3 linked regions of the Homo sapiens genome follow. The protein of the gene in region 3 purifies or fractionates together with the protein of the main gene of each other region. This does not show direct contact. Each region holds a gene or a part of one and is shown on either strand. Other genes may lie near its edges.

Region 1 (7,932 bases), on a different chromosome or scaffold from region 3:
CGCCTCTACACAAACTGTTCTCTGTGCCTAGAATATCTTTCTGAGACTTGTCTGCCTGGTGAGCTCTCTTTCCACTCCCACTGCCTGATGAACGCCTTATTCAGGATAAGCTCAGGGTATCAGCCCCCACTGCTTCACAGGACTTGAGCTTTGTCTCCTGGTGCTGCTGTCTTGGCAGAAGTGCTGGACTCCAGGAATTAGGTAAACAATGATCTTGTATGTGCAGTTGTTCTCTCATACTTCCATACATACTTGAAGCAACTTTGATTTGGGGTGTGGAGGAGAAGGACATAGAGAAGAAAGCTATTGCTCTTTGAATACCAAAAGCTGTTTTCCTCAGTTTCTCAGAAGTTCTCACTCTCTCCCACGACAGCCACACTTTGAACAACTAAGGCCCTGAAAAAATGTCAGTACTGCATATGATTTTACACCAGCTTGTGCTACTTGCATATTTCATGCTTGATCATTTCCCCAGCTGGGCTGTCAACTCTTTTAGGACAGAGGATAGAAAGAGCCTAGACTTTGCTGTCAAATAGATCTGAGTTCCAATCCCAATTATGAGCTCTGTGACTTTGAGCAGATTACTAATCTTCTTCTGAGGAGTTACTTGAGGGCAGCATCTCCTTCGGCATCTGACATGTAGAAGGCTTTTAGGATAAAGTCCAGACACCAACCTGGCCTACACTTCACTCTCCTGCTCATCAAAGCTTACTGTCCCATTTGCATTCTAAGCTCTTTTAGAATGTGCTATGGTGGTCCTCACCTCCAGACCTCCGTTTTCCCCTCCTCTGTCACAAGGCCAACTTTGATTCATTTTTCAGACTTACTGTAGCTCTCACTAATGCTAGGAAGATGTGGCAGAGACTGTTAGTTGCCTCCAATGTCCTTTCCCCCTTCCTCTATAGTAATGGACCTCCTCTCAAATCAGTGTACAGCTGGGCACGTGATTGTCCAGAAAAATGACATTTCCCAGATTTTTTTTTTTTTTTTGCAAGAAGGTATAACTTTATGGCTAAGTTCTTTCCAAGAAATGCCAGATAGTGTGGCAGCTTTTGAGAACATTTCTTAAAAGGACTGCTGGCATGATGACCATTACCATTTCTACTTTCTATTTTGAGTCTTCCTCCTTCCTGCTGGCTGCAATGCAAACGTGATGACTGGAACTACAGCAACTGTTTGGGGACCAAGGCAGAAGCCTGGGTGATTGGGATCTTTGTGGATCAGGGCTGTTTATCAGTCCTGCTTCCAGAATTCTCTACAAGGGCAAAATGAACTTCTATCTTGGGGAGGTAAGCTCCTATTTTGGGGCCTTACTTTCAATCAAACCTAATCTTGATGGCTAAGTCTTTCTTGGCTCCCCACATCTGGTTACCTCCTTGACTTCAGTAGCACCCTGCACTTTATACAGGAAATGAGGATACCTGTTTGTGTGCATCTGTCTCCCCAAGTGCAGAGGCTCTGTTTACTTTGTTCCATTTTTGTATCTCTAGCACTTGGCTGGTTTATACTAGGTGTTCAGAAAATTTTTGTTGAATGATTAGAGATGTTTTGTAGATTGAATGCAAATAATAATATTGCCTACCTTGTGTTGCTTTGAGGGTCAAATGAGAAAAAGTGGCTTTAAAATCTTAAGTTTTCTTCCCTTCTTTCCACATTCCCCCACCGATCCTCACACCCAGGGTGGGCCACCTTACAGTATGCCTTCCTTTATACTGTTTTCTTTTTCTTTTTTTTTTTTCTTTTGAGACGGAGTCTCGCTCTGTTGCCCAGGCTAGAGTGCAGTGGTGTGATCTCGGCTCACTGCAAGCTCTGCTTCCCGGGTTCACGCCATTCTCCTACCTCAGCCTACCGAGTAGCTGGGACTACAGGTGCCCACCACCACGCCCGGCTAACTTTTTGTATTTTTTTTCTAGTAGAGACAGGGTTTCACCATGTTAGCCAGGATGGTCTTGATCTCCTGACCTTGTGATCCGCCCACCTCGGCCTCCCAAAGTGCTGGGATCACAGGCGTGAGCCACCGCGCCTGGCCTGTTTTCTTTTCCTCTGGGTTCAGAAGCCTCCAGTGCAAAATGATTGGATGAGATCATTTGAATCTTAACACCCATTCTGAGTCTAAGTGTCACTCTCACCTTTTCAGTTCATAGGAATCTCTCCCTCCTCTAGCTCCCTGGAAAGGCTCTCCAGGTAGATGGAACAGCAAATACAAAGGTATTGAGGTGTTACAAGTCATGGAGAATTAAGCATCTGGGCTAGTTGGGTCTGGTTGGAGGAGGTAGATGGGCTGCTCTGCCAGAGAAGAGACAGGGATCCCACTGTTATTTATCCCGGGGGAGGCTGGGAGACAGACACAATCAAGCCCATTTCTGTATGTGTTATGCTCACACCTTACCTAGTTATTAAATGATTTCTTGCTTTTGTGCAAGAGATCTTTATAGCACTAAAAATTATGGTCAACAACACTGTTATAACTTTTGACTAGTGAGAAAAAAAATTTGTGTTATTCACCATGGTTCCCAATAACATTACTGCAATATTTGTGTCTGTAAAACATCAAAAACAACAAATGCAGTAACAGAATGCCTATAAAACTATAAATGTTTTCTGGAAATGTAGTCTTTTTGCTTTTCTTGGGATAATCCTGTGGTTCTTCAGCAGTGATTGGTGTGAGTTCTACAGAACCGCTGCTATGTGCATGGAGACCCAGAAGAGATTTTTGAGCAAGAAGGTGTCAGCCATTCAATGTTTATTGGGTCTACCAGGTGCTTGGTGCTGGCCTGGAGGGCCTAGGATGACAAAATTACTGTCCTTGAGAAGCTCACAGTTTATTTAATGTGAGGCACATACAAGTAACCAAGCAAATACAACATAAGAGCCAGACTGGAATTATTTATAGTGTGATGTGGGACCCTGGGGTGGGGAATAAAAAAGGGTATCAAAAGGAGCAGGATCAAAAGGAGCAGGATCTGGAGCTGGACCCAAACAGCTTAAGATATCCACTTAAGAAAGATCACTCCAGCACCTGTGGGGTACATGGCTGGGATAGAGAAGAAACTCTGGCCAGAGAAACCATTCAGGAGGTTTTTGCGAGTTAGGATGATAAAGGGATCTAAAATATAGGGCAGATTCTACGGAGACTGAAGAAGAATGGGTGAAATATTTGGAGGCAAAATTACTTGTGCTTGGTAAATTGTTAGAAAGTGGCAAAGGAGTCAAGAATAATTCCCAGGTTTGTGGTCTGGGGATTAGGCAGATAAAAGAGGTGAGGGCACTAAGAGGAAGGCTGGGACCTTTAGTGCCATCTCCACCATCAGTCTCCATTCCTTCAAACGGATAGTTGACATTTTCTCAATGTTTTGTACATTTCCAGGCAAAATAAACCTTCAGGACCACCTTCCAATGGGATTACCATGTCAAAGCCCCTCCTATATCATATGGAATCTAGACCATCACTGTGTGTGTGTCAAGGGGGTAGGGACAATGACCAGCATTATAATCTATGGACAAAGTTGGGCTTGGTTGCAGAATATATTTAAGTTTGGTATTCTTTGTATTTTTAAAAATTTGTTTACTTTTTAAGAATTTGAGACAGGGTTTCTGCATGTTGCCCAGGCTGGCAACTCCTGGCCTCAAGCAATCCTCCCGCCTCAGCCTCCCAAGAAGCTGGAATCACAGGTGCGAGCCACCCCACACAACTAAATTTGGAATTATGAATATGGCTGAGGTCCAGAAATATTTAAATTTGGCATGATGACTAAGAGTTTGTTATAGGAGCTCAATCATTTGATAAATATTGAACATTTCCTATGTGTCAGATTGTTTTTCCCACTAGGGATGCAGAGGAGAACAAGACAGAATAGGTTCTTGTCCTCATAGAGTGTGGGAGACAGGCAGAAGACATATAATTTCAGGTAGGTATAAGTATCATAAAGAAAAAATAAAGCAAAACAAGAGAGTGCTGGGAAAGGCCAGGGAGCAGAGAGGATGACAGAGCTGTCTTAGGGTGTTCAAGACCTCTTTGAAAAGCTGATATTTGAGCAGAAGACCACAGCAAGGAAAAGTGGCAGAGACTGCTAGCTGCCTACGCATGAAATGATGGGGGAAGGAGCAATACAGAAGGCATGTAACATTTGAGAGTCTATTAGGCATCCCAAGGGAGGTGCTGCGGAGGCGGATGCATGGAGGCGGATGCGGAGGCGGATGCATGGAGGCGGATGCATGGAGGCAGATGGATGCACACGTCTAGAGTTTAAAAGGAGATCTGAGGCGGAGATACGAACTTGGGAGCTGTTAGTCCAGTTCCAGGTTCCAATTCAACGTACTTTTATCAGAGCTCACTGTGCGCCAGGGACTTGCTAGGAGATAAATGGGGTTTATCTCACCGGAGATAAATGTGGTTGCACAGCAGATGGACACACCAGCCAATGTGGTAAATAAACCCTTGGGTCCAGCTACGTTCTGCGCGCTCTCTGCCAGCACAGAGGAGCAGCGAGTCAGGGTACGGAGCGGGTAGCGTTGGGGAAGAGGTGGCCGCGAAGCGAGACAGGCCAGCGGAACGGAAAACGGAAGCACGAGACGGGGGCGTGACGCACCGGGCGCATCACAAAGAACGGCGAGAGGGCGGTGGCGCCGGGGGCACGGCTGGGCGGCTCCGCCCAGAAGAGGGCCGAGAGGCGGGGCGGTGCCCCCACCGCAGGCCCGCGGCGCCCTCTGCAGGCCACAGGCAGCGACTCACCAGTTGCCTCATCTTTCCTCTCCTCCCTCTTGGGGCTTTCCTCAGGCCACATTTTTTGTGTGTCTGGGCAGTCTCTCAGCCTCCGACTCCCGTCCCTTTCTTCCACTTCCAGGCCGGGCGTGTTAGTGTCTTCGCGGGAAAACTGCCAATAAAGTTTTTCTTCTTCTCGCTCCCAAGATCCCCGCCTCCCCTTAAGCACCGCGAGATCTGACGGCGCGGCTACCATGGCGGCGGCATTTGAAGCCTCGGGAGCCTTAGCAGCAGTGGCGACTGCTATGCCGGCTGAGCATGTGGCCGTGCAGGTCCCGGCCCCAGAGCCAACACCCGGGCCTGTGAGGATCCTGCGGACCGCTCAGGATCTCAGCAGCCCGCGGACCCGCACGGGGGATGTGCTGTTGGCGGAGCCGGCCGACTTCGAGTCACTGCTGCTTTCGCGGCCGGTGCTGGAGGGGCTGCGGGCGGCCGGCTTCGAGAGGCCCTCGCCGGTGCAGCTCAAGGCCATCCCGTTGGGGCGCTGCGGGCTCGGTGAGAGCGGGGGCCCGGGATAGGTCGGGGGGTGGGGTGGGAGAAGGGGGACCGACGGGCGGCGGCGGCCAGGCCCGCGCCGCAGCTCAGGAAGAGCCCTCGGTCGGCCCCCGGAGCAGGGCCCTGCCGGGGGCTAGGCGCTACGCTCAGTTAACTTATTTGTAAAACTAACGTGCACTATTGAACTTGAGGATAGTTAAGACCTTTTTTTAAGCACTGACAAATGGTTCTAAGTTTGAGAAGATAAACGGTAAACGTTCAGGGACTAGGCGTGTTCTCATACGTTTTTGAGAATCAACTAAAAATGAAGGTGCCAACTAGGGGAATCTCAGGAGACCCTTCTAGTTCTCTGATTCCATGTTAGCCCCTAAGTTGCTTCAGTGAGTACTGGCTAGTGATAATTGTTTTTTTCCTTCGCAGATTTAATTGTTCAAGCTAAATCTGGCACCGGGAAAACCTGTGTGTTCTCCACCATAGCTTTGGACTCTCTTGTTCTTGAAAACTTAAGTACCCAGGTGAGTTAGCTGAGAGGACCAGAGGAGGATGTGTTTTGTGGACTTTACCACAGGTCAGATGAAATACCAGTAGCTCCTCAGAGCTGGAAGTGAATTTGATGAATGATTGAGTTAAGTGGTGGTGGTGGCGAAATTTGGAATTTTCTATGCGTACCTTATTTAAATAGAATAAAGCTACCATATATGTCAATTTTGTCACTACTTGGTAATACAGACAGGGATTCTTCTTTTACTTACTGACTAGATTAATGTGAGACTTAACATTTGACTTGATTCATGGTAATGTAGTGCTCTGGCTATTGTTGGTAACTGCAGAGTTTGTTTTTTTTTTTTGAGACGGTGTCGCTTTGTCACCTAGGCTGGAGTGCAGTGGCGGATCATTGCTCACTGCAACCTTGAACTTCTGGGCTCCAGTGATCCTCCCACCCATCTTCCTAAGTATTTGGGACTACAGGTGTGTGCCACCACACCTGGCTAGTTCTTGTATTTTTTGTAGAGATGGGGTCTCCAGTGTTGCACAGACCAGCCTTGAACTCCTGGGTTCAAGCAATCCTCCCACCTTTGCCTCCCAAAGTACTGGGATTACAGGCATGAGCCACCACAGCCGGTATGCAGGTGGTTCTTAAAGCTCTGTAAATGTATCATATTGATCTCCCATCTTCCAGGTTGTCTTAGAGTGTTTCTAAGATTGCCTTACCCAAATTAGCAGGAAATTTGAGTTTGGGGATCATTTCTCCAACAAAGGTTTGTTGAGTCCGTATTACGTATAAACAGTGTGCCAGGCATTGGGGATTCAAAGATGAATTAGATGTGATTCTCATAGCCTTACTTGGTAGTTTAGTTGTTATGGCAGACTGTATTTCAAGTTCTCAGGCATTGGTATATCTGATGATGAATCTTCAACAGTGGTTTTTAACCCAGATATCCATGTTCATCACCTGGGAAGCTTTTTGAGTCCATCTTATGTCTACCAAATCCTAGGTGATGTTGCACATTGGAAATCCTCCTACTTCCCAAGAACCTGAGTTAGTCTAATTGTAGACTAAGATGTATTTGAGATTTTGGCTTCTGACAATTTGGCAGCAGATAAAATGCTGAAATCCTGGAAAAGTTTCATCAACTCATTTTTTTTTGAGACCGAGTCTCACTCTGTTGCCCAGGCTGGAGTCAGTGGCACAATCTTGGCTCACTGCAACCTCTGCCTCCCAGGTTCAAGTGATTCTCCTGCCTCAGCCTCCCGAGTAGCTGGGATTACAAGTGTGCACACCACACGCCCGGCTAATTTTTTTGTATTTTTAGTAGAGACGGTGTTTCGCCATGTCGGCCAGGCTGGTCTCAAACTCCTGACCTCAGGTAATCCACCTGCCTCAGCCTCCCAACATGCTGGGATCACAAGTGTGAGCCACCATGCCCGGCAAATTCATATTTTTAATTTCAGATCTTTGGATTATGAAAATTACATTATTCTCTGTGTGTGTATCAAAGTAATACATATTCATTTTTAGAAATAGGGAAAATTCAGAAAAATTAGGACGTACCAGAAAACAAAATCTGTAATCTTACTACCTAGAGAGAAACTGCTATTAACAGTTTTGGCATGTTTTCTCCTAGTCCTTTTTTTTTTTTTTTTTTTAAATCAATTTTTTTTTCTTGTAGTTAAGAGCACAAAGTTTTGTTTTCTCCTCCTCCAGTAGTTACATTGCAAAGTTTTTACCATGACTCTCAAGGTCTTTTGTGATCTAGTCCCTGGAGGTAGATCTCTGACCTCCTTTACTTTCCCCTGAATTCTGTCATGTGGGCCTTCTTTTTCTTCCTCAAATACACCAAGAACACTGCCATCTTATGGCCTTTCCATTTGCTGTTTCCTCTTGGTGAAAACGCTTCCCCAGGGGTCATATAGCCAGCTCTACTCTATGCCATTCACGTAGGTCTCTGCTCAAAGTACCTCCTTTGAGGAGGTTTCATGATCACCTCATTTAAAATGACTCCTTTTTTCCTTGTTTGATTTTTTTATGATACTTTTTATTACCTGTCATTACTTATTTTTGTTTACTGTATATATTCTTATCCAAGAATGAAAGTACCATGAGGGCAAAGACTTTGTACTGTTAACTGTTGATTCCCCGGCAACTAGTATGTTGCCTAGCACAGAGTAGGTTC
Region 2 (7,157 bases), on a different chromosome or scaffold from region 3:
TAGCAGCCAAAAAGACTCTCCAGGGCCAGCACAGTAGCAGCCCCATAGAAAGCACGGGGGCAGGGAGGGAAGGCTGAAGGGCTCCAGTGGAGCCCTGGCCTGGAGCCCTGCCCTCGGTGTTCCTGCCACCTCGCCGCTGACATCACGAAGCCGGGTCATCAGAGGCTGGGTGGAACCCAAGCGGAGAGGCCGCCGCCTTTCCCACCAGGTTCATCCTTCCCCTCCTGGGATCAGCAAGATTCTCAGAGAGCATACGGATCGGGGCAGGAGGGACAAAGGGCACCCAAACAAGGAAAGGGCCATGGGTGCGGGGAGGCTACGGGGGCGACTGGGGTGGGAGGAGGGGCGCCTCGCTGCTCCTGAGCTGCCTGGCTAAGCTGGGCTGGTGTGCGGTGCTGAGTGATCTTACCCATGATACAAACCCTTATACCAACCATACACTGAGGTGTTGTAAGGGGAGCGTAAGCATCAGCTGCAAGCCAGCTGCGTGGTGGCTGCAGTGACAATAAGAACAGTCAATTAATACGGCGGCCCCTGGACACGCCGCAGCCCTGCCCACCCTCCCCCACCCATCCCTGCCCATGTGGACGCCGCGGCAGCCTCAAAGGGGGCTTTGGAACTGTAGGGGCAGGCGCTCAACATGCCTATCACCCCACTGCCCGCTGAGGAACAGGGTGGGGGGCCAGGGTTGGGGAAGCGGAGGGTCGGGTGGCCCAGCCCCAGTTCTACTGGGGGGGGAAGAGAGGGCAGGTTCAAAGGCCAGTCCTCATTGCAACCTGGCCACCCCCAACTTCAGTGGGGGGAATGGGGGAGGTTCCCCCAAAATCCGACCCCTCCCCCCACCTCCAGCTGGCCCCAGCCCCCCACCCAGTTCCCTCTTTGCCCCTGAGGTTCAACGTGTGACACTTACCTCCCCAGGTTCACACACACACACACGTTGTGGGGGATTTGGTTTTTGTTTTTTAAAAAACACGTATATAAAAAAAAAAAAGATACATCAGAAACAGAGGGAGGAGGAGAAGAGACATCGCTAATGTCAGGTGTGGCAGGGTGGGGGAGGGGACAGACTGGGAGGGGCTGGGGCAGCAGAGAAGTGAGAGCAGGTCAGAGGGCAGGGCTCGGCGGGAGGTACTCACAGTGCATGTCTCGCTCGTGTTCGTACTCGATGAAGGCATAGCCACGGGGCTTTCCTGACCGCTTACTGTAGACCATGTGTATCTGTGGGGCACATGGGGACAGGGGTGAGTCCTGCCACAGGGCGGCTCCGCCCCACCAACCCCACAACAGCCTGCACACCAGGCCCTGGGCCGGATGAGGCCTCAGACCCTCTCTGTCCTTCAAGAGCCCTGAGTGACTTATGTTCTAATGGCAGGAGCAGAGGACACAGAGGCGGCTTCCTGGAGAAAATGACACTTAAGCTAAGACCTAAAGAAAGAAGAGAGATGAAGGAAGACAGTGAGGTGTCAGCCTGTCAGGTGGAATAGCAGTAACTCCAGAGGTCCAAGGGCCCGGGGGCAGGAGGGCAGGAGGCTGGGGATGCGCTTCGGCAGGGCTGGCTCATGTACTGATGACAGAGAGTCCCAGGAGATGAAGCCACAAAGGTGGGCAGGCCCGGGGTCATCAAGCGCCCCAATGCCAGGCCGAGAAGTGTGGTCGCTGAGGAGCTGGGAAGGGTGTTGAGCAAGGAAGGGCCAATGTGGGTGGTCTACGTGGAGTCAGGAGGACACAAATGGAATTAGGGAAACAGGAGGGAGTTGTGAATGCCAATGGGACGGGAATTCTTTTTTTTTTTTTTTTTTTTGGAGACAGAGTCTTGCTCTGTTGCCCAGGCTAGAGTGCAATGGCTCAATCTCAGCTCACTGCAACCTGCACCTCCCGGGTTCAAGCGATTCTCCTGCCTCAGCCTCCCAAGTAGCTGGGATTACAGGCGTGCGCCACCACACCTGGGTAATTTTTTGTATCTTTAGTAGAGATGGGGTTTCACCATGTTGGCCAGGCTGGTCTTGAAATCCTGACCTCATGATCTGCCCTTCTCGGCCTCCCAAAGTGCTGGGATTACGGGCGTGAGCCACTGTGCCTGGCCAAGGACAGGGAAGTTCTAAGGGAAAAAGAAAGGACACGTGCACAGCCAGGGAGGCTTGAGAGAACGTGGCACGATGAGGGATGCGTCCCATCCCGAGGATGGCAGCAAGAGAAGGGAGGAGATGGGGTGGGGTGGAGGTCCATGAGGCCACACAGCTTGGGGAAGAGCCCTGGAAGGCCAGATGGTGGCAGCTGGACCTGTCCTAACATGCTAGGGACCCATGGGATGCTGTCAGCAGAGATGGGGTCAGCTCTGGATGTCAGAAAGACCCCTTGGGGACCATGTCAGGGAGAACAACGGGCAAGGCAGGGCTGTTGAGACAGAGGTGGCCAGAATGAACCAGGGAAGATTTCTGGGAGGTAACAGCATTTGAGCTGGTCCCTAAAGGATGGCTAGTTCGCCATTCACATCACTACCAGTTGGCGACCAACCTGTATCATGGATGAACCTGGGACCCCACAGCCTCCAAAACACAACCAAGATTCCTGACTTGAATGGATCAGAGGGACAAGGGTGGGGCCAAGGTTGTCACTGGGCTGTGCAAGGCAGAACAACGTGTGTGTGTGTGTGTACACATATATACACATGCACATACACACACACACACAGGCACGAGACACCACACTCGGCTAATCTTTTGTATTTTTGTAGAGACGGGGTTTCGCCATGTTGGCCAGGCTGGTCTTGCCTCCTGACCTCAGGTGATCTGCCTGCCTCGCCCTCCCAACATGTGGGATTACAGGCGTGAGCTACCACGCCCAGCCTACAATACTTTTTTTTTTTTTTAAGATGGAGTCCCACTCTGTTGCCCAGGCTGGAGTACAGTGGTGTGATCTCGGCTCACTGCAACCTCCGCCTCCTGGGTTCAAGCAATTCTCCTGCCTCAGCCTCCTCAGTAGCTGGGATTACGGGCGCCCGCTATCATGCCCAGCTAATTTTTGTATTTTTTTTTTTTTTGTACAGACCAGGTTTCACCATGTTGGTCAGACTGGTCTCGAACTCCTGACCTCAGGTTATCCGCCCACCTCGGCCTCCCAAAGTGCTGGGATTACAGGCGTGAGCCACCGTGCCTGGCCCAACAATACTTTTTTTTTCCTTTGTGTGGAGAACGGGGTCTTGCTATATTGCCCAGGCAGGTCTCGAACTCCTGGGTTTAAGCTATCCTCCCGCCTCTGCCTCCTTAAGAGCTGAGATTACAGGTGTGAGCCATTGCACCCGGCCTGACATGTATAAATATTTTTAAAAGACGTATCAGAAACAGAGCAGGGAGAAGAGACATGGCTAACATCAGTTTGTGTGTAGGATGGCCTCAAGCCCTCACTACTGCCCAGTGAAGGCATGCGTCTCCCATGTTAGATAAAGGAAATCAGACACAGAGCACTTCAGTGACTTAAAAGAAGATTGGTAAAACAAAGCCTTCCTCTAAAACGGGACTCAGCATAGGTATTCTGCCAAGACCCAGAGAGTAGATATTTCCAGCTTGGACGGCCGTATACTGTTGCAACAATCCAACCCTGCCTTACAACAGTAGCAGCCAAAGACAATGTGTAAACAAACAGACCTGCCTGGCTGAGCAGCAGGAAAACTTTAAGTCTGTAGTTTGCCAACCCCTGCTCTCAACCAACCACCAGCAGTCATTACTTCTCATTTTACTTCTGCTGCCCAAGGTCTGCTGCATGGAGATACAGTCAGGATGCATAAATCCAGGCCCTGAAATGGTGTGAGCCATGCTCAGGGCTGGGACCTCTCTCCCTCCCTCTCAGGATACAGCCCCTCCTCCATGCACCCCCAATTCAAACACCCTGACCCACTCCACTTACTCTTTTGATAGGTCCGTACACCTCAAACTCTCTCCGGAGCTTGGATTCTGTTGTGTCATAATTCTACAAGGAGATGGATATGACGTTAAATGGGAGAACAGAGCTGTCCCACAGCCCCTGGAACATTCCCCTGTACCTAGCCTATTTGACCTTTGTGCCAGACCCAGGCTCTCAGCAGCGTGGGGTTCCAGGAGCTAGGAGCTGGGGACTTACCACTCTCGCCACGAAGAGAGTCTTGAAGGCATCCCCCTGAGCATTGGGATCATTGTGAGGGTCCCCTGTGCAGGAAGAAAGGAATTTTATAAGTTGAAGGTGTCCATGGTCTCAGGTAGCAAAACAAATACGATGGGCAGAGGCCAAGAAGAAAACGGTGGCATTGGGAGAGGCCCCTAACTGGAGGAACATGGGTGGTGACCTGGCAACCTCAGGGACGCCCCTCTCTGAACCTGTTTCTCTGAGGCACAGTGGGCTTTATCAGAGTGGCTGAGAGATAATCCAGGCTGCTGAGGAGAGGAGGTAAGGCTGACTTCAAGCTGACAGGATGTGGGCAGGCCCAACTGCCATTTCAGACCTACATAAACCCTAAGGGCCCTATCGCTCCCAGATGCAAGGTGATCCAAACAGTAATAGCCCAACTGGGCCTCCCTGGAGATGCAGCTGATGCCCCCAGGTTCTGAGCTCCCTCCTGTAGGCAGGGCCACACTGCCACCTACTGGACACAGACTGCAACTACAGCCCACAGGAAAACCTGAGACCAAGCTGCCCCAAGGCTAAGAATGAGAGCCAGGAAAGCAAACACTAAGTAAGCTCTGCTTTCCTGTCTGTGCCCTGTGTCTCTAAAAAGGAACCCAGGAACTGACTAGCGTCAGATCAGATTCTCACTCCAGCCTCACTACTGTGAGGCAAACTGTTCTACCTGGCTACTAAGGAATAACAATCTCCAAAGAAAAGAGCCAGGAATCTCCTAAGAAACCAATTTCATAGGTGATCCTGCTGGGTCAGGCCTGGGAATAAGTCCTTTTCACCAAATATGGTGGCTCCAGCACATAATGACCCTGACTCCTGCCGGGGCCTTAAGGACACTCTGCCGGTTCTTCCATGGTATAGTGTTTCCCTCGGAAGCCCTGTCACATTCTGGGAGAGCATGAGAAAAGGAATAACATTAACCCATTTATGCCAGAGGTTGCAATTTTTTGAATTGCAGACACGTGTGAAAAATCAGACCCTGGTGATGACCCGAGCAGTAGGATATAAATAACTCCCACATGCTTAGCGTTCCAATAATGGAACATTAGACATATAATTTACTGAACACGTACTATGGCCCAGACACAGTGCTGGACACTGATATTTATTTATTACTATTTTGCAAATGGAAGTAAAACAGAACAAACTCGAGACACAGAAAAAGGGAGGTGTTAAAGTGGCGAAGGGCCAAGGCAGACTTCACCTCTCACCCCGGGCACTTGAACTACCAGGCTCCTTCCCCGAACCCTCGGGTGCTACCTTTTCAGGAAGACAGTGTGGGTGTTGCCAGAAGCTAGAGAAATAAAGTCTCAGATTTTTTTTTTTTTTAAACAGAGTCTTGCTCTGTTGCCCAGGCTTAAAGTGCAATGGCGCAATCTCGTCTCACTGCAACCTCTGCCTCCGAGGTTCAAGCAATTCTCCTGCCTCAGCTTCTCAAGCAGCTGGGATTACAGGCGTGCACCACCACATCCAGCTAATTTTTGTATTGTTAGTAGAGATGGGGTTTCGCCATGTTGGCCAGGCTGGTCTCGAACTCCTGACCTCAGGTGATCCGCCCTCCTCGGCCTCCCAAAGTGCTGGGATTACAGGCATGAACCACCGCGTCCCGCCAGATTTGTTTCTTATGAGAGAATTTAACTACAAGTATAAACTAAGGTCAAGATGACTTTAAGGAATGTACTTTTTTTGAGATGGAGTGTCACTCTTGTTGCCCAAGGTCAGTGCAATGGATGGCGAGATCTCGGCTTACTGCAACCTCCGCCTCCCGGGTTCAAGCGATTCTCCTGCCTCAGCCTCCCAAGTAGCTGGGATTACAAACACACACCACCACACCCAGCTAATCTTTTGTATTTTTAGTAGAGACGGGGTTTCACTATGTTGGCCAGGCTGGTTTCGAACTCCTGACCTCAGGTGATCTGCCTGCCTCGGCCTCCCAAAGTGCTGGCATTACAGGCGTGAGCCACCGCACCTGGCCTAAGAATATTTTAGAAAACAGAAGCCTAAGCCACAATTTAAGGGAATCGCTATCTGGGACAAATGGAAACGTCTGAAAACAACTCCATCTCAGCGTTCTCTCCACCCACTCCTCAAGTTCCTTGCCAGGCTGGGCACAGTGGCTCACACCTGTAATCCCAGCAATTTGGGAGGCTAAGGCGGACGGATCACCTGAGGTCAGGTGTTTGAGACCAGCCTGGCAAACATGGCGAAACCCCGTCTCTACTAAAAATACAAAATTACCAGGGCATGGTGGTGTGCGCCTATAGTCCCAGCTACTCGGGAGGCTGACGCAGGAGAATTGCTTGAATCTGGGAGGTGGAGATTGCAGTGAGCCGAGATCATACCACTGAACTCCAGCCTCGGCAATAAAGCGAAAAAAAAAACAAAAAACAAAAAACGTTCCTTGCCATACCTTATCCCTGAGCGTTGTAATTTTCTATGGCCAGGTCTCTCAATCTGCACTGGCTTTTTTTTTTTTTTTTTTTGCACCAGCTAACTCTCATTCATTCAATAGGTAATTCTTTTTATTCGCCGATGTTTGTGCTCTTGTAAGTAAGTAATTCTTAAGCATCTACTATGTGCCTGGAAATGCTATAGTTGTTGGGGATTTCGCAGTAAACAAGACAAAAAAAGGTGCTGGGCGCAGTGGCTCACAGCTGTAATGCCAGCACTTTGGGAGGCCAAGGCAGGCGGATCACTTGTGACCAAGAGTTCAAGAAGACCAGCCTGATCAACACAGCGAAACCTCATCCCTACTAAAAATACACAAAAAATTAGCTGGGTGTGGTCCAGCTACTCAGGAGACTAAGACAAGAGAATCGCTTGAACCAGGGAGGCGATGAAGGTTGCAGTAAACCGAGATCGTGCCACTACAGTCTATCCTGTGCAACAGAGTGAGACTGTCTCCAAAAAAAAAAAAAAAAAGGTGTCTACCCTCATGGGGTTCATATGCTAATGAAAGAGGTAAATAAGGAGATCCTATGATCACATCAGATGACGACAGAGAATAG
Region 3 (7,157 bases):
GGATTTGAAAGACTGGGGGCTAAGGCAATAGAGATACACAAAGAGACAACAACTCTTTCACAAAGTTTGTTGTAAAAATGTGCATATACATGAAGCCAGAGGGGATAGATGGGGTCAAGGGAGTATTAAATGGAAAATACCAGGGACCTGTTTTTATGCTGATGAAAGTAAGGCTTGAAAAGAGGAAGAGCTTGTTGCAGGAGTAAACTATGATAAATGCAGGGGTATTGCTGAAAAGTCAAGAGGGGATTGGATTCAGATGACAAGAAGAAAGAACAGCTGGGAATATAGAAATAGGTGCAGGTAGATTTGTAGATGTGCTTGGAAGAAAAAGGTGTTCTATTCTGGTATTTCTGATTTTCTCATTGAGGCATAAGTCAGAGTGGTAGAGTCAAGTTCATCATGGGGTTGAAACTGGATATGCAAAGAAGGTATGAAAATGGTCAAAGAGAATAGGAAAACGAATGTACTAAGGAAAATTATAGGCCCAGTGTTCACTGTTGAGTGGCAAACAAAGAATCGTGGCCATAAATTTAAAGTAAACCCAAACTGTTTGAGAAAGGAGATGGTTGGATTCAGCCAGGTTTGGGGCTTTGTGGAGTAAGTACTCTTGAGGGAGAGGGAGAAGGAGACGGGGCGTACGGGTATTTTTAAAAGTTGATGATAAGGCTGGGCGCAGTGGCTCACACCTGTAATCCCAACACTTTGGGAGGCCGAGGCGGGTGGATCACCTGAGGTCAGGAGTTCAAGACCAGCCCGGCCAACATGGTGAAGCCCCATCTCTACTAAAAATAAAAAATCAGGCCAGGTGCAGTGGTGCACGCCTGTAATCCCAGCACTTTGAGAGGCCGAGGTGGGCAAATCACCTGTGGTTGGGAGTTCAAGACCAGCATGGAGAAACCCCGTCTCTATTAAAAACACAAAATTAGCCAGGCATGGTGGCGCATGCCTGTAATCCCAGCTACTAGGGAGGCTGAGGCAGGAGGATCACTTGAACCCAGGAGGTAGAGGTTGTGGTGAGCCAGGATTGAGCCATTGCACCCCAGCCTGGGCAACAAGAGCGAAACTCTGTCTCAAAAAAACAAACAAACAAAAATTAGCCAGACTTGGTGGCGCACACCTGTAAGCCCAGCTACTCAGGAGGGTGAGGCAGGAGAATCGCTTGAACCTGGGCAGTGGAGGTTGCAGTGAGATGAGATTGCACCACTGCACTCCAGCCTGAGCGACAGAGCAAGACTCTATCTCAAAAAAAAAAGTCAATGATAGTGATGGATCATGAAATCTGTGCTGCATTGGGTAGGGGGATGTATGGAAAGACAGGTGTGGGTGAGTGATAGTGAAAATGGAAGGGGACTGGATCGGCAGTCTCTTGAAGTGGGAGCAGTGTTGTAGTAGGGTTGATAGAGAGGATGAACAGAAAGGTGGTAGGCAGGAGTCAGGGGAGGATCTTCAGAATAGTATTATTCCCAGAAAGCTTGATTCAGATTTCTAAATAGCTTGATCTGTTGGTGATTAGGTTGCATAACTTGGCAGTTTTCAAAGTCCGGGTCTTCAAAGGTTGACATACTCTAGTGTTTCTTTTAAAAAAAAAAAATAAATAAAGCTGTGCTGGTGTTCTTCCCTGTCGAATGCTGTAATGTGTAGGAAGTGTGAATAGGTACAGCCACTTTGTATAATGCAGTTTTGTACTTTCTAATAAAAATGCATATATCTTAACATCCTGGCAGTTCCATTACTAGTCATCAAACCTGAAATTGTCTTAGATGTGTACATGAACATTAATAGCATTTTTTTGTTGTAAAAAAGTGGAAGCCCTTCAAAAGGAAAATGAATAAACTTTGAAATATTCACACAGTGCAGTACTAATACAATAGTGTAATGACTGGCCAGGAACTAGAGTTACGTGTATCAACATGGATGAATTACAAACAGAATGAGTGAAAAAAACAAGCTGCAGGAAAATAGATGATAGCATTTATGTGCAGTTTTAAAATATGCAAAATCTATATCTTATTTAGGAATATATACAAAGAAAGGCTAGGAATGATATAACACAATTCACAAATAGAGTTTGACCTCTGGGTAGAGGAAGAAAAGGAGAAGAGATCTGGCAAGGAGAGAGGTTTGATTGAAGTGGAATGTACAGAGGACTTCAGCTCTATTGGTAATTATTTTTCTTAGGCAGGGTAGTAGATTACTTTTTTTATGTATCTGAAGTCATTCATTTTTAAAAAGCTATTAGAATTTCTCAGTTTCTTTTGAATTCATAAAATGACAGCCTTGGAATATGCAGGTCTAGAGTGTAGAATTCTGCAACTTTTGTTAAGTTCACAGTTTAAAAAGTAGTATCACTTATAAAGAAAGAGATTATTTTCCAGTGCACTAGGACAAAATTATCTCTAGTTAGAAGAGTTGGCCGGGTGTGGTGGCTGATGCCTATAATCCCATCACTTTAGGAGGCCAACGCAGGTAGATTGCTTGAGCCCAGGAGTTTGAGACCAGCCATGAGCAACATGGTGAAACCTCATCTCTACAAAAAAATACAAAAATTAGCTGGGCATGGCATGTACCTTTAGTCCCAGCTACTCAGTCCCAGGCTGAGGTGGGAGGATTGCTTGAGCCTGGGAAGTCAAGGCTGCAGTAAGTGGTGATTGTGCCACTGCACTCCAGCCTGGGCAACAGAGAAGGAAAAAAGAAGAGTTGCTGCACCCTTGCAAAAACTATGAAAATTCCCTTAGAACAAAATCATGGTCCACTGTGAGTTTTGTACCAGGCAACATACATAGTATTACCTAGTGCCAAGAGTTTGATCATAGAGAGAAGGGTTTTAACAAAACCAGGAGGCATAAGGTGAGCACTTTAAAAAAAGGAAAAAGCAAAATTATTTTTTGTCCTCTTCCCTCCTCCGCCACCCCAAATGCACCTAACTTTAAGGAATGCGCCAATGGTAACTCCAAGCCAAAATGTTTACTAGAGACTCTGTTCTGTCTTCATTTTTTTAGTAATATTTCTAACTCTTGTTTTTTAGCTACAAGGATGGCATAGTGGTGATAATTGACATCAGTAAGAAAGGAGAAGTTATTCATAGGCTTCGAGGCCATGATGATGAAATCCACTCCATAGCCTGGTGTCCCCTGCCTGGTGAAGATTGTTTATCTATAAACCAAGAGGAAACTTCAGGTAGAGATGGTTTAAGGGAAAGTTAAGTCCACTTGAGACCTGAAGAACAGAACGGGTACAATTATATCATTTTTTATTTATTATTTATTTTTGGAGACGGAGTTTTGCTTTTGTTGCCTAGGCTGGAGCGTGATCTCGGCTCACCGCAACCTCCGCCTCCCGGGTTCAAGCGATTCTCCTGCCTCAGCCTCCCGAGTAGCCGGGATTACAGGCATGCGCCACCACGCCCAGCTAATTTTGTATTTTTAGTAGAGACAGGTTTCTCCATGTTGGTCAGGCTGGTCTTGAACTCCCGACCTCAGGTGATCCACCTGCCTCAGCCTCCCAAAATGCTGGGATTACAGGCGTGAGCCACTGCACCAGGCCGAATTATATCATTTTAATTATACCTAAAACTTCAAATTTTATAGTTCAGACCTATGAAAGAGATAGCTAAGTTTTGGAAACTCTTGCAAACTAATTTTTTTATATTAGTGCGTGTTTAATGTAAATTAAAAACAAAATTGCCACCTATCTCATAGAAGAAGCTGAAATTACCAACGGGAATGCTGTAGCACAAGCTCCAGTAACAAAAGGTTGCTACTTAGCCACTGGAAGCAAAGATCAAACCATTCGAATCTGGAGCTGTTCTAGAGGCCGAGGTAAGATTGATCTTTCTTTTGTGATGTAACCTATGTTGATCTGGTGGAAGTAGAGGGTTTTCTGTTCTTATTGTCCTGAGGGTGTGTCATCTATTTGAGAGCAGTTCTTCACTTTTTGGTCTAGAATTCTGCTTCCTCATTTGAGCCTGGCCTAGACTCTCTATTCTCTCAACATCTGGCCTTAGAGATTAGTATTTCCCATGCATTCCAGGAGAAGACAAGGATCTCTTGCTTTATAGAAGGGTCAGTGTTTGGCATGGAGAGCAGAATATTTGTAATAAAAACAGGAATATTAGAACATGATATGGCCTAAGCCAGGAGAATGGAAAATATCTTAAGAGTTAGAGCTTTTAATGCACAAATGCAGAATAAATTACATACACCCAGCATAGAATTATGTGTAAAAGCTCATTTTATCCAAATTATAGAGCCCCTCAATCATTTAGCTTTCCCAAATGTCTCTTTGAACAGAACTTTTATCTTTAAGTTTAAAAATTGAGAGAAACTCTAGGCATAATGAATATTTATAGTATATCATAGAATATAACCTTTATAGTAAAAATCTTGTTTTTCTCTTTCTAGCGGGCTTCTCTTCTTTCTTCATTTTATTTTATTTTTTTTGGCAGTTTTTTAAGCTGTGGTGGAAAATATAACATTTGCCATCTTTATCACTTTTAAGTGTACATTTAAGTGGTATGAAGTACACTCTAAAGTTGTGCAACTGTCACAGCCACCCATCTCCAGAATTCTACTCTCCATTTCCCCCTCCCCCAGGCCCTGGCAACCATCATTCTGCTTTCAGCTCTATGATTTTGACTACTCTGAGTATTTCCTTTGAGTGAAGTTATACATATGATATGTCTTTTTGTGATTGGCTTATTTCACTTAGCATATATCCCCGAGGTTCATTGATGTTGGTACCGTATGTCAGCATATCCTTCCTTTCTAAGGCTGAATAATATTCCATTGTGTGTATGTCCCACATTTTACTTACCCACTCATCCACTTGTTATAAATAAAATTTCGGTGTGGCAAAAGAAATAGCACTCAAATATAAAACTTTCTTTTTAATTCTCAGCAAGGCAATGTACTTCTATAGAAGGGTGCGCCCTTACAGATGGAGCAATGGTGAGCGCACACTTGGACAACGGAGGGGAGGGGTTCTTATCCCTGACGCATGTGGCCCCTGCTGCTGTGTCGTTCCCCTATCAGCTAGGGTTAGACCGCACAGGCTAAACTAATTCTGATTCGCTGATTTAAAGAGAGTGCCGGGGTAAGTGGTTTGATGGGAGAAAATGGTTATGGCAGGAAAAATGGTTATGGCAGAGCAGGAAATCAGAATGAGTCAGGGTGGAGCAGGTAATCGGAATGAGTCAGGATGGAGCAGGTAATCGAAAAAGGTTGCTTTTACGAGGAAGTTAAGTTTAAAAACAGAAGCCAAATAATTGAACATACTGACATATTGATTCTTTGAAGAGAAATTTAGAACTCATATCTCACACACTGATGGACATTTGGGTTGCTTCCATGTTTTACTATTCTAAATAATATGCTATGAGCATGGATGTACTTTCTACTTTATTTGAAACCATGATAGTTTTATCATATTTGCCCAAATGCATGTAAAGCAAGTAGCACAGCACTTGGAATGTCATCCAGGCTTCATCAGTGGTAGGTAACTAATAGTATAATTTGGGAAGACAGAACTTTTTTAAGGTTTACAGGCTACTTCTTGGCATACTGCAGCTAAAACTCCAAGTGGGAACATAAGGCTGAGGATCCCTCCAGGAGGGTAACCTCTAGACTTAGAGGTGTCTGGTAAAATGGCCTTCAATTGTGGTTGTGCAGCAGAATCAGCTGGAGAGTCTTTGGAAAAATGTAGGTTCTTGTACCCCACCTCAGATCTACTGAGTCCGAATCTCTAGGAGTTAGGCCCTGGCGTATGTATTTTTTAAAGTTCCACCTGTGGTTCCGATGCACAATACAGCTTAAAAAACGGTGATTAGAAGCATGTCGGGTGGAGGTACTCCCCACCCACAGCACGTTCACTGCCAAATTTTTCTTTGTTGGATTTCTTGCCGACTAGAAATAGTAATCCCAACCTCTGTCCTTTTCACTTTGGAGTTATGTCACTGCAATACTTTTGGGTACACAACTCAGCTGTGTTACTAGCTGGGTTCTCAGTTTTACTTGGGAACTCATTTTCCCAGACGAAAAAATACTCTTTTTCTTTTGAGGCAGAGTCTCTCTCTGTCGCCCAGGCTGGAGTGCAGTGGCACGATCTCAGCTCACTGCAAGCTCCACCTCCTGGGTTCATGCCATTCTCCTGCCTCAGCCTCCCGAGTAGCTGGGACTACAGGTGCCTGCCACCACGCCCGGCTAATTTTTTTGTATTTTTAGTAGAGACAGGGTTTCACCATGTTAGCCAGGATGGTCTCGATCTCCTGACCTCGTGATCCTCCCGCCTCGGCCTCTCAAAGTGCTGGGATTACAGGCATGAGCCACCGCGCCCGGCCAAAAAAAAAAAATACTCTTAATACGTTGAGGTTGTCAAGATAGCCTGTCGAAGCTTGTTTGACCTAAATGTAGCTAGACTAGTATTAACCAGTATTTATAGTGATTAAAATTATAACCATAATAATGGTTAAAATTGTAACCATTGGAAAATGAGATCTGAATTCTAAGTAGCCAAACTAACAAGCTTTTACAGCGCAGACTGTGTGTTATGAACCACCGGTGACTTCATGCATGTAGTTTCACTGTCTTGAGTGCCCACTGGCCTTCTTTTTAATCTGCAGGGGTGATGATTTTGAAATTGCCCTTTCTGAAGAGAAGAGGAGGGGGTATAGACCCAACTGTTAAAGAGCGCCTTTGGTTGACACTCCATTGGCCCAGCAATCAACCAACACAGCTGGTATCTAGCTGTTTTGGGTAAGTCTTTTTTGGTCATGCTTTCTCAGATATATTTTGTTTTTCTATTTGGCCTCAAGTCCTCCTAGGATGGAGAAAGTAATGGCCAAGGCTTGTATTATGATGGGCCATTTGAAATGGAAAAATTATGAGACTAATGCCTGTGCTATCTACTAACAGAGCTGTAAAAAGATCACATAAGTATAGTCCGGCAGTTAGGAATATGGACTCTGAAGTCAGAACTAAATTTCAGAATCACTTTGTCACTTACTGCCTTGTATTCCTGAGCAAGACCCTTTACTTTTCTGAGCTTCAGTCACTTCAAGTGTAGAAAGGGGAGATGGTTATAATATTTTCTCTTAGGTTGGATGGCTATGCCCATTCAGTAAACAAAGTTCATTGACTACCTACTTCTAGTGGCTGGAG

Evidence for each region.
Region 1: the proteins of GEMIN5 (region 3) and DDX20 purify together in Homo sapiens (affinity purification with western blotting; 7 studies listed by BioGRID and IntAct, with this or other methods). This does not show direct contact.
Region 2: the proteins of GEMIN5 (region 3) and SNRNP70 purify together in Homo sapiens (affinity purification with mass spectrometry; 5 studies listed by BioGRID and IntAct, with this or other methods). This does not show direct contact.

The regions. Positions count from the first base shown.
Region 1 is NC_000001.11:111,750,969-111,758,900, forward strand, and holds the start of DDX20 (probable ATP-dependent RNA helicase DDX20), read left to right. Parts: upstream 1-4,932; 5' UTR 4,933-4,956; coding exon 4,957-5,257; intron 5,258-5,677; coding exon 5,678-5,772; intron 5,773-7,932.
Region 2 is NC_000019.10:49,095,451-49,102,607, reverse strand, and holds part of SNRNP70 (U1 small nuclear ribonucleoprotein 70 kDa), read right to left. Parts: intron 4,182-7,157; coding exon 4,117-4,181; intron 3,967-4,116; coding exon 3,904-3,966; intron 3,775-3,903; exon of another isoform or gene 3,762-3,774; coding exon of another isoform or gene 3,645-3,761; intron 1,219-3,644; coding exon 1,137-1,218; intron 450-1,136; exon of another isoform or gene 435-449; intron 1-434. UniProt on the Homo sapiens protein: Component of the spliceosomal U1 snRNP, which is essential for recognition of the pre-mRNA 5' splice-site and the subsequent assembly of the spliceosome. SNRNP70 binds to the loop I region of U1-snRNA.
Region 3 is NC_000005.10:154,928,122-154,935,278, reverse strand, and holds part of GEMIN5 (gem-associated protein 5), read left to right. Parts: intron 1-3,028; coding exon 3,029-3,180; intron 3,181-3,701; coding exon 3,702-3,821; intron 3,822-6,619; coding exon 6,620-6,752; intron 6,753-7,157. UniProt on the Homo sapiens protein: The SMN complex catalyzes the assembly of small nuclear ribonucleoproteins (snRNPs), the building blocks of the spliceosome, and thereby plays an important role in the splicing of cellular pre-mRNAs.